2 linked regions of the Homo sapiens genome follow. The protein of the gene in region 1 interacts with the protein of each later gene in a pairwise test. Each region holds a gene or a part of one and is shown on either strand. Other genes may lie near its edges.

What was found.
Region 2: the proteins of C6orf58 (region 1) and LDLRAP1 interact in a two-hybrid assay, tested with the Homo sapiens proteins (one large-scale study listed by BioGRID and IntAct).

The regions. Positions count from the first base shown.
Region 1 is NC_000006.12:127,589,454-127,592,353, reverse strand, and holds the end of C6orf58 (protein LEG1 homolog precursor), read right to left. Parts: intron 2,268-2,900; coding exon 2,029-2,267; intron 812-2,028; coding exon 732-811; 3' UTR 534-731; downstream 1-533. UniProt on the Homo sapiens protein: May be involved in early liver development.
Region 2 is NC_000001.11:25,564,020-25,567,845, reverse strand, and holds part of LDLRAP1 (low density lipoprotein receptor adapter protein 1), read right to left. Parts: intron 2,674-3,826; coding exon 2,639-2,673; intron 2,485-2,638; coding exon of another isoform or gene 2,430-2,484; exon of another isoform or gene 999-2,429; coding exon 854-998; 3' UTR 1-853. UniProt on the Homo sapiens protein: Adapter protein (clathrin-associated sorting protein (CLASP)) required for efficient endocytosis of the LDL receptor (LDLR) in polarized cells such as hepatocytes and lymphocytes, but not in non-polarized cells (fibroblasts).

The sequences.
Region 1 (2,900 bases):
ATTTGTCCAATTTCATTTTCCAACAGTTAGTGGGTAGATTTAGTATGTGAATGAGGACCCGGGAAAACTTTCATATGAAAGCTTCGTGTCAGCTCTAGAAATCACCACCTCCTGGCCAGTGTATTCTCACTTATTAATTATATATTTTATATATAATGAATTCATTATCAAGTGTGGGTGAAAGGAGGGGAACTCTATCATGTAATTGCTGTAAACTTGTGGTCAGCAAAAACACAGAGAAAACTGACACATGAGTTAGTGTATTCTACTTTCCAGGTCAGTTTTATGAATTTTAAAAATTTGAACTGCCTGTCAGTATTTTATTTCAAAATGATCTGGATTTTGGTTATAAATCAGCAATATATATTAGTCTAAATGTCATGAAATTTGATGATAGGATAACAACAAAAGAGCTACACAAGTTTAATATGTTTGTTAATTTCTCAGTTATTTTTTGGTAGCATAATGCAATATCCTTTTATCTTAAACATTTTAATCATTAATGAATTTTAAAATCATGAGCAAAATAATCATTATTTTAACTTGAATGCATTTAATTTAAGTTTTTAATACATGTACAAGATCTTAACAAATAAGCATAAATCAAAAATATCAGAAAGAATAAACTACATGGTCATGATGACATTAATTTTTTGAAATTACTGATTGTCAAGTTCGAGTTTTTCATTTTTAATTCATTAATCATTTCCTGAAGTTTGAAGTTAAATGTTTCAGGAGTTATTTCCATAACTTCTAGAGCTAGATTCCGAATGATCTCTATATACATTAGATTTTTCTGTACAAAGATAACCTGTAAAAGATACAAAATGATTACATGTAAACTCTTGCAAATTTTTTAAAGTACCTTTTGGCAATATATGGCTCATAATTTTATTTCATTTCCTTTCTACTAATTTAATGGTAAAATCATAAATTATACAAAGAAAAGTAAGCATGGCATGTCATTCATAGAATTATTGGCAATACCATTTGGCAATACCTGACTTACCAACTTTACTTCACGTTCTTTCTATGAATTTGGTGATAAAATAATAAATTATGCAAGAAAAATATATATAAAATGTCATTGTTATATTATTGGCAATAACTAATAATAACACTATATATCTATTAAACAGAATAAATTGGATCAACTCATTTTTGGGAAAAAGCTCCAAGAAAAATTTTCACAGAATGAAGAAGACTTGGTCTGCTACTGATTGTGTGAAGGGAAGCTGCCTACTGACAGAGAATGCTGCACTAGAACCAAAGGAAAAACTTCAATTGTATGAAGTCTATAAAGTGTTTGGATGTTTTTGTTACTCTAACTGATGCAGAGGTTTTTTTTAAACATAGGTTTAATTTATTCATGTTTAATTTACTCCATTTTTATCTTTCAGACTTGATGTTTTTGCTTTGAAAAACGTTTTAAATTTGGCTCAATGCTTCAGTTCATGTATGGCAAATGGGAATGATATAGTCACTTTCAAACTGGTAGATAAAGAACCCTCTGTTTTTTTTACCTCACTAGAAGATCCAGCATTTGAAGGGCTAGAATAAAACCCTTCTTCCATGACTAATAGTATTGGATCAAGGGAACTCAAGTAAGCCAAATTGCTAGTAATTTCATTAATCATGGCAGGTTTTCTTTTGAAATGTCTTCATTTTCTTTAAATATAAGAGCAAAGTAGAAAGTTTTTTTTTTTAAATGATCTGATGAGCAAAATAAGGAATATATATCGGTATGTAGAACAAAACAAAAGTGTTTCAGTTGGTTTGCCAACTTCAAGTTTCAACATGGTCTCCAGATGAAAGGACAGACCATGAGTAAGAAGATTAAAATGTGTGCTCATTAAATGGTTCTATATATCAAGAGTGATTATTGCTAAAGAAATAGAATGGATACCCACAGGGAAATCTTTATTTTTGGAGTGCTGTAATGTTTATATCACTGATTTAATTATTATTTCTTCCTCTATTTGTTCAACATAATACTGATTTTTAAAAGTATCCTTTTAAGGTTCTTACCTATAGATTTATCCACATTGTCAAGCATATTTAGAAGAACCAGGACTACATTCTGAAAAGCAGTAAAGTCACTGATGAAAGGGGCTACATCAGTATTAAGAAGAATTCGTGGTGGCATGCCCTTCTGGAACTTATATGATCTAATCAAGGTTGTAGGAAAGAGGACTGCAGCTAAATGATCCACAGCCAGTACCCAACTTCTCTCAAAATGCGCTTCTGCTTTAGAATAATAATCATATCTAAAAGACAAACGGAAAAGTATTTAATTATAATTAGTCACCTCAGAAGTTCAAGCTCATTGCCTTCAGAAAATATTGGTTCTTGCCAACAAACTAAATTCATAATTTTATAATTTAGAAAATAGGCTTGATATTGTGATGACTTTATTCCATCCCTCAGGAGGTGTGAAGTTGGCTCATTAAAATTCTAAATCTAGGAAGAATCATCTCACTAATTGTTTACATTTTACATTGCATTTTATCTTCTTTAATTCAGCACATTATACTTGAATACCACCTAATAACCAAAAGTAAGGCATTTTTAAATCATACTCTTTGCCAATGTAGAGATAAATATCAAAGGTCTAAAGCAAAATTTTTGCTAGACTCAAATATCCTTTGTGAAACTGTTGATTTCTTAAAGCCAGGGATCCCAGAAACATTGAGATTTCTAGAAAAATAATATCTAGATCTAAATTGTAAATAATTGGCATTCTTCTACCACAGGAAGCCTCAGGTAGAAAAAAAGCCTCTGTAATTGTTAGAAAAGACTCTGTAATTATTAGAAAAGCCTCTGTAACTATTTGTCCCCATAATAGGTGAGAAAGTTTAGTTTCTCCTAAGAAATGGGGACAAATAATTACAATGGAAAGA
Region 2 (3,826 bases), on another chromosome or scaffold:
GCACAGCCTTGCGTGGAGGGGAGAAGGCAGGCAGGGGCCCGACGGAGGGCGGTCACAGAGATGATCCCCGTGTCAGTCCCTGGGAGCAGGGAGCAGCCAGTTACACTGGTTCCAAGCACAGGTGGAGACCATCCACGGGGACCTTGGGCCCCTTCTCCTGGAGGAAGGGCAGAAGGAAAGCTGGACTCAATGCAGCACCATGGAGGAGCCCTCAGGGTCACACCTGCTGTTAATGCTTTAAAGTGCCAAGCTGTATCGTCTTTGGTCAGGAGCTGCCCCTTAGTCTCTAAGAGCCTGGGGTCCAGGGCTCAAACCCCCGCCTGCTGGGCCCTGAGGAAGCAGAGCAGGAGGACACATTCCCCTTCTGCGGCTGTGGGTGCTCTCCTGTGCTGGGGGGTGGGGGGAAAAATCACTGAAATCCAACAGCTTTCAGGAAGCAGGATGCCCCCAGGGAAATTTGGGTCCTTAGAAAGAGAGAAGGGACTAGAAATGCTTTGGTCACAGTCCTGATACCCACAGCCAGGGCAGAGCTTGCTCCAGGAGAGCAAGCGGGAGCCGATTACAGCACTGCACATGTCACGCAGCAGGAGACGTGCCTGACGCAGACTGGCTTCTGAGCATAAGCCAGAAGTCACTGAATAAATATTCAAGGCATCTTTTGGTTCTCAGAGAAAGAGCAGGGCTTAAAAGAAAAATCTCTCCCCTGCCTGACTGGCTGCAGCTCTGATCTTCAGGCTGACAATGCTGAGGGCTGGGAGAGGTGGCAGGCGGGCCCCAGAACTGGCTCCCCCGCAGCAGGTGGCTTTGGTCCATCACGTGTCAGGGCCGCTTGTGTCCGGCTGGCCCCGGGCCCTCAGAAGCTGAAGAGGTCATCCTGCTCTGTGCCGCTGCTGTCAGGCTTGTCCCAGTCGACAGGCGAGAGGCACTGGGCGTAATGCATGTCCTGGGCTGTCAGGCCAGTGTCCAGGACCTGAGGGTTTGTCCGAGACTGGGCAAGCCTGGAAGGCAGAGCTGTGTGAGCCGAGAGCCTGGGTGAGGGCTGGCGCGCCCCAGGGTCAGACGCGAGGGGGCACCAGTGGGGAACAGCAGGGCACATGGCCCAAGAAGGAAGCCCCCGGTGCAGGGGAGGTGGAGTAACCTCAGATCAAAGCACCTCCCCTTGAGAGTCAAACAGCTCAGAAAAGTCAGGGGCAGCCAGCGGTGCACCCACCCCCGGGAGAGGCCAGAGCACCCACTCTGTGCCCCAGCTCAGTCAGGACATGCCCAGGAAAGAGGAGAAGGGGCTGGTAAAGGGAGCAGCGGGGGTGGGGGTGGGGTGGGGAACAAGCTGTGGGAGGGAACACGGAAGATTCTTTGGCTATAACTGTGTCAACACCGTGCTGTTCGAAAAATAAATTTACAAAGGGAGACAACCTACATGTCCAAAAGAATAGGGGAGAGTCAAGTAAATTATAGCAGCTTCCCTTAAGAGAATGTTAGGCAGTCAATGGAAGAGGTGTTTACGAGGAGCTTTTAACAGCCTGGAGCAATGCTTCTGACACATCGCTGTTAAGTGAAAAATCAGGATCCCAAAATGCAAATACGATGAGCTGATCAATGCAAAATAATGTATATGTATAGGATTAGCATGAATTAAGCCCAAAACTCTGGGCTGTGGGATTACAGGATGGTGTTACTTTCTGTTTAATGCTTTGCTGATTTTCAAAATTGTTAATAAAGGGCACATGATGCTCAAAATAATGTGGAGAAAGCAAACAAAAGATTTTCTTCAGAGGGCAGGTGTCGTCAGCCAGTGAGGCAGGGAAGGTGTCACTGTCGCCCTCGCCCCAGGCTGGACCAAGGGGTTTCCACTAGTCCCTGGCAAGAAGGAGGCAAGGAAGAGGAAGGAGGAGGCAGGAGGGCAAAGACCCTGACTCTGTCCCCACCCGCTGGACCAAAAATCGCTGACTCCAACCCCAAACAAAGCCCCTGATGTGGGAGGGCTGTAGGAGGCTGCTGAGGGTCTCAAGTGAGAAAGGGAGGCCTGACAGACGGGGACCCAGGGCTCGGAACCCTGACCTGCCCAGGCCTCTCCTCAGCCACAGCCTTCTCAGTGGCATGTCCCCAAGCTGCAGGGGGCCACAAGGATGGCCCCTGGGAAAACGGGGAAATGCCACCAAAGGCTATACCAAAACACCTCCTCACTGTGCCTGACCTTCCCTGCTATGGAACGCTTCACGAGCTTCATTAAACACTTTCTCCCTTCCCCTGTTCATAAACACAGACCTGTGGAGGGAGCAAAGCCTGTAAAAAAAAAAAAAAGCCCATTTTTGAAGGCCACGCCTCCTCAAGTCGGAGGAAATCAACTTGAGCTGCAGTGTGTTTCGCTCACCTCAGACTGCGGCAGAGCAGCCACCAGGAATAGTTTTTGACTCAACAGTAAGAACTTTCTAACAGCTCTGGACAACGCTGGAAGGGGTTTCCTCCCCAGTGAGCTCCCTGCCCCTGGAAGCATTTGAGTGGAGGGATGGGACTGTTGCTCTGGAGGGGGTCTGAGTGGCTTGTGTTCTTAATCAGGGGAAAGGTCCCCAGGAGAAAGGGCAGCAGGGCCAGCCCACGCACACCAGGCCCCCTACCCAGCACAGGAAGCTAGCATTACCTCGAAAACGCTTCATCCAGGCCATCATCCAGCTCCTTGGGGAAAACAAAGCAGGAGATAAGAACTATGTTTGGGGGAGCCCATGCTCACAGCTGGGGCTTGTCCCAGCCCTGGGTAAGCTACAGGGACTCAGGACACAAGCTCAGGGTGGGCGCCTGGAGGCACGGCCTCAGGCAGGCCTCCTGCCTGGGTGCATCGCCAGCATCTCAGCCCAAGGACCCAAAGCTGGAGACGTGGGAGAGGAGAAAGGCCATGTCCCAGGGTGTCTGGAGACCCAGGTGGGTTCAGTGCCCTGGTCCATGCTACCTGCCCGTGAGACCTTGGGCAAGTCACTGCTCCACGTTGAAACTCAGCTTTTCCTTCAATAAGAGGAGGGCATTGGACCTGATGACTTCTATGGCTTTCAAATTCCAAAAGGAAGAGGGTGGGGAAGGGAGTTTTCTTGCCTTCATTTACTTCCAAAAGCCAAGCCAAAATTCCAAGTTCATGAGGGATAACTGATGCCAGGAGTCCCACAGCCTCAGCAGAAAAGCGACAGGTGAGGTCCCTCCATGGCCTTCTGGTGAGGATGGGCAAGTGGCAAGGGTGGTTCCCAAACAGCAGAGAACAGGCTCGAGGGACACCAGGGGAGCCCCCAGTACCCAGATTTTTAAAAATTAAAGAGACGACAAGTTAACATGTGATTCTGCAATGGATCCTGGGCCAGAAACAGGACACTGAAGGGGCACCTGGAGAAATGTGTAAGTTCTATAGATTATATAACAGCACAGTATCGTGTTTGTTTCCTGATTCTGACCAGTGTAATGTGGTCATGCAAGATGTTAACAATTGGGGAATCTGGATGACGGGTGAACAGGAATTCTCTGTACTAATTTTGTAACACAGTCTGAAATTATTTCCAAATGAAAAATTAAAATTAAATTTCAGGTTCCTCGGGGAGATTCCGTTGGCAGAGGTCATCACCCTTACTGAGATGAAAAAGCTGAGACAGAGAGGTCAGGGGGCTTGCCCTGAGTCCCTGAGGGAGTCAGGGACCAAGCTGGTGACTGCCCAAGTCTCTGGGTCCTCATTCAGGCGGCTGAGGGGGAGGGGTGGTAGGAGCGAGCTCTGCCACACCAAGAACAAGGGCGCCTTTGGCTGGTCTTGTGGTGGGCAGAGCCGTGGACGCTCAGGCCAAGAGGCCAAGCA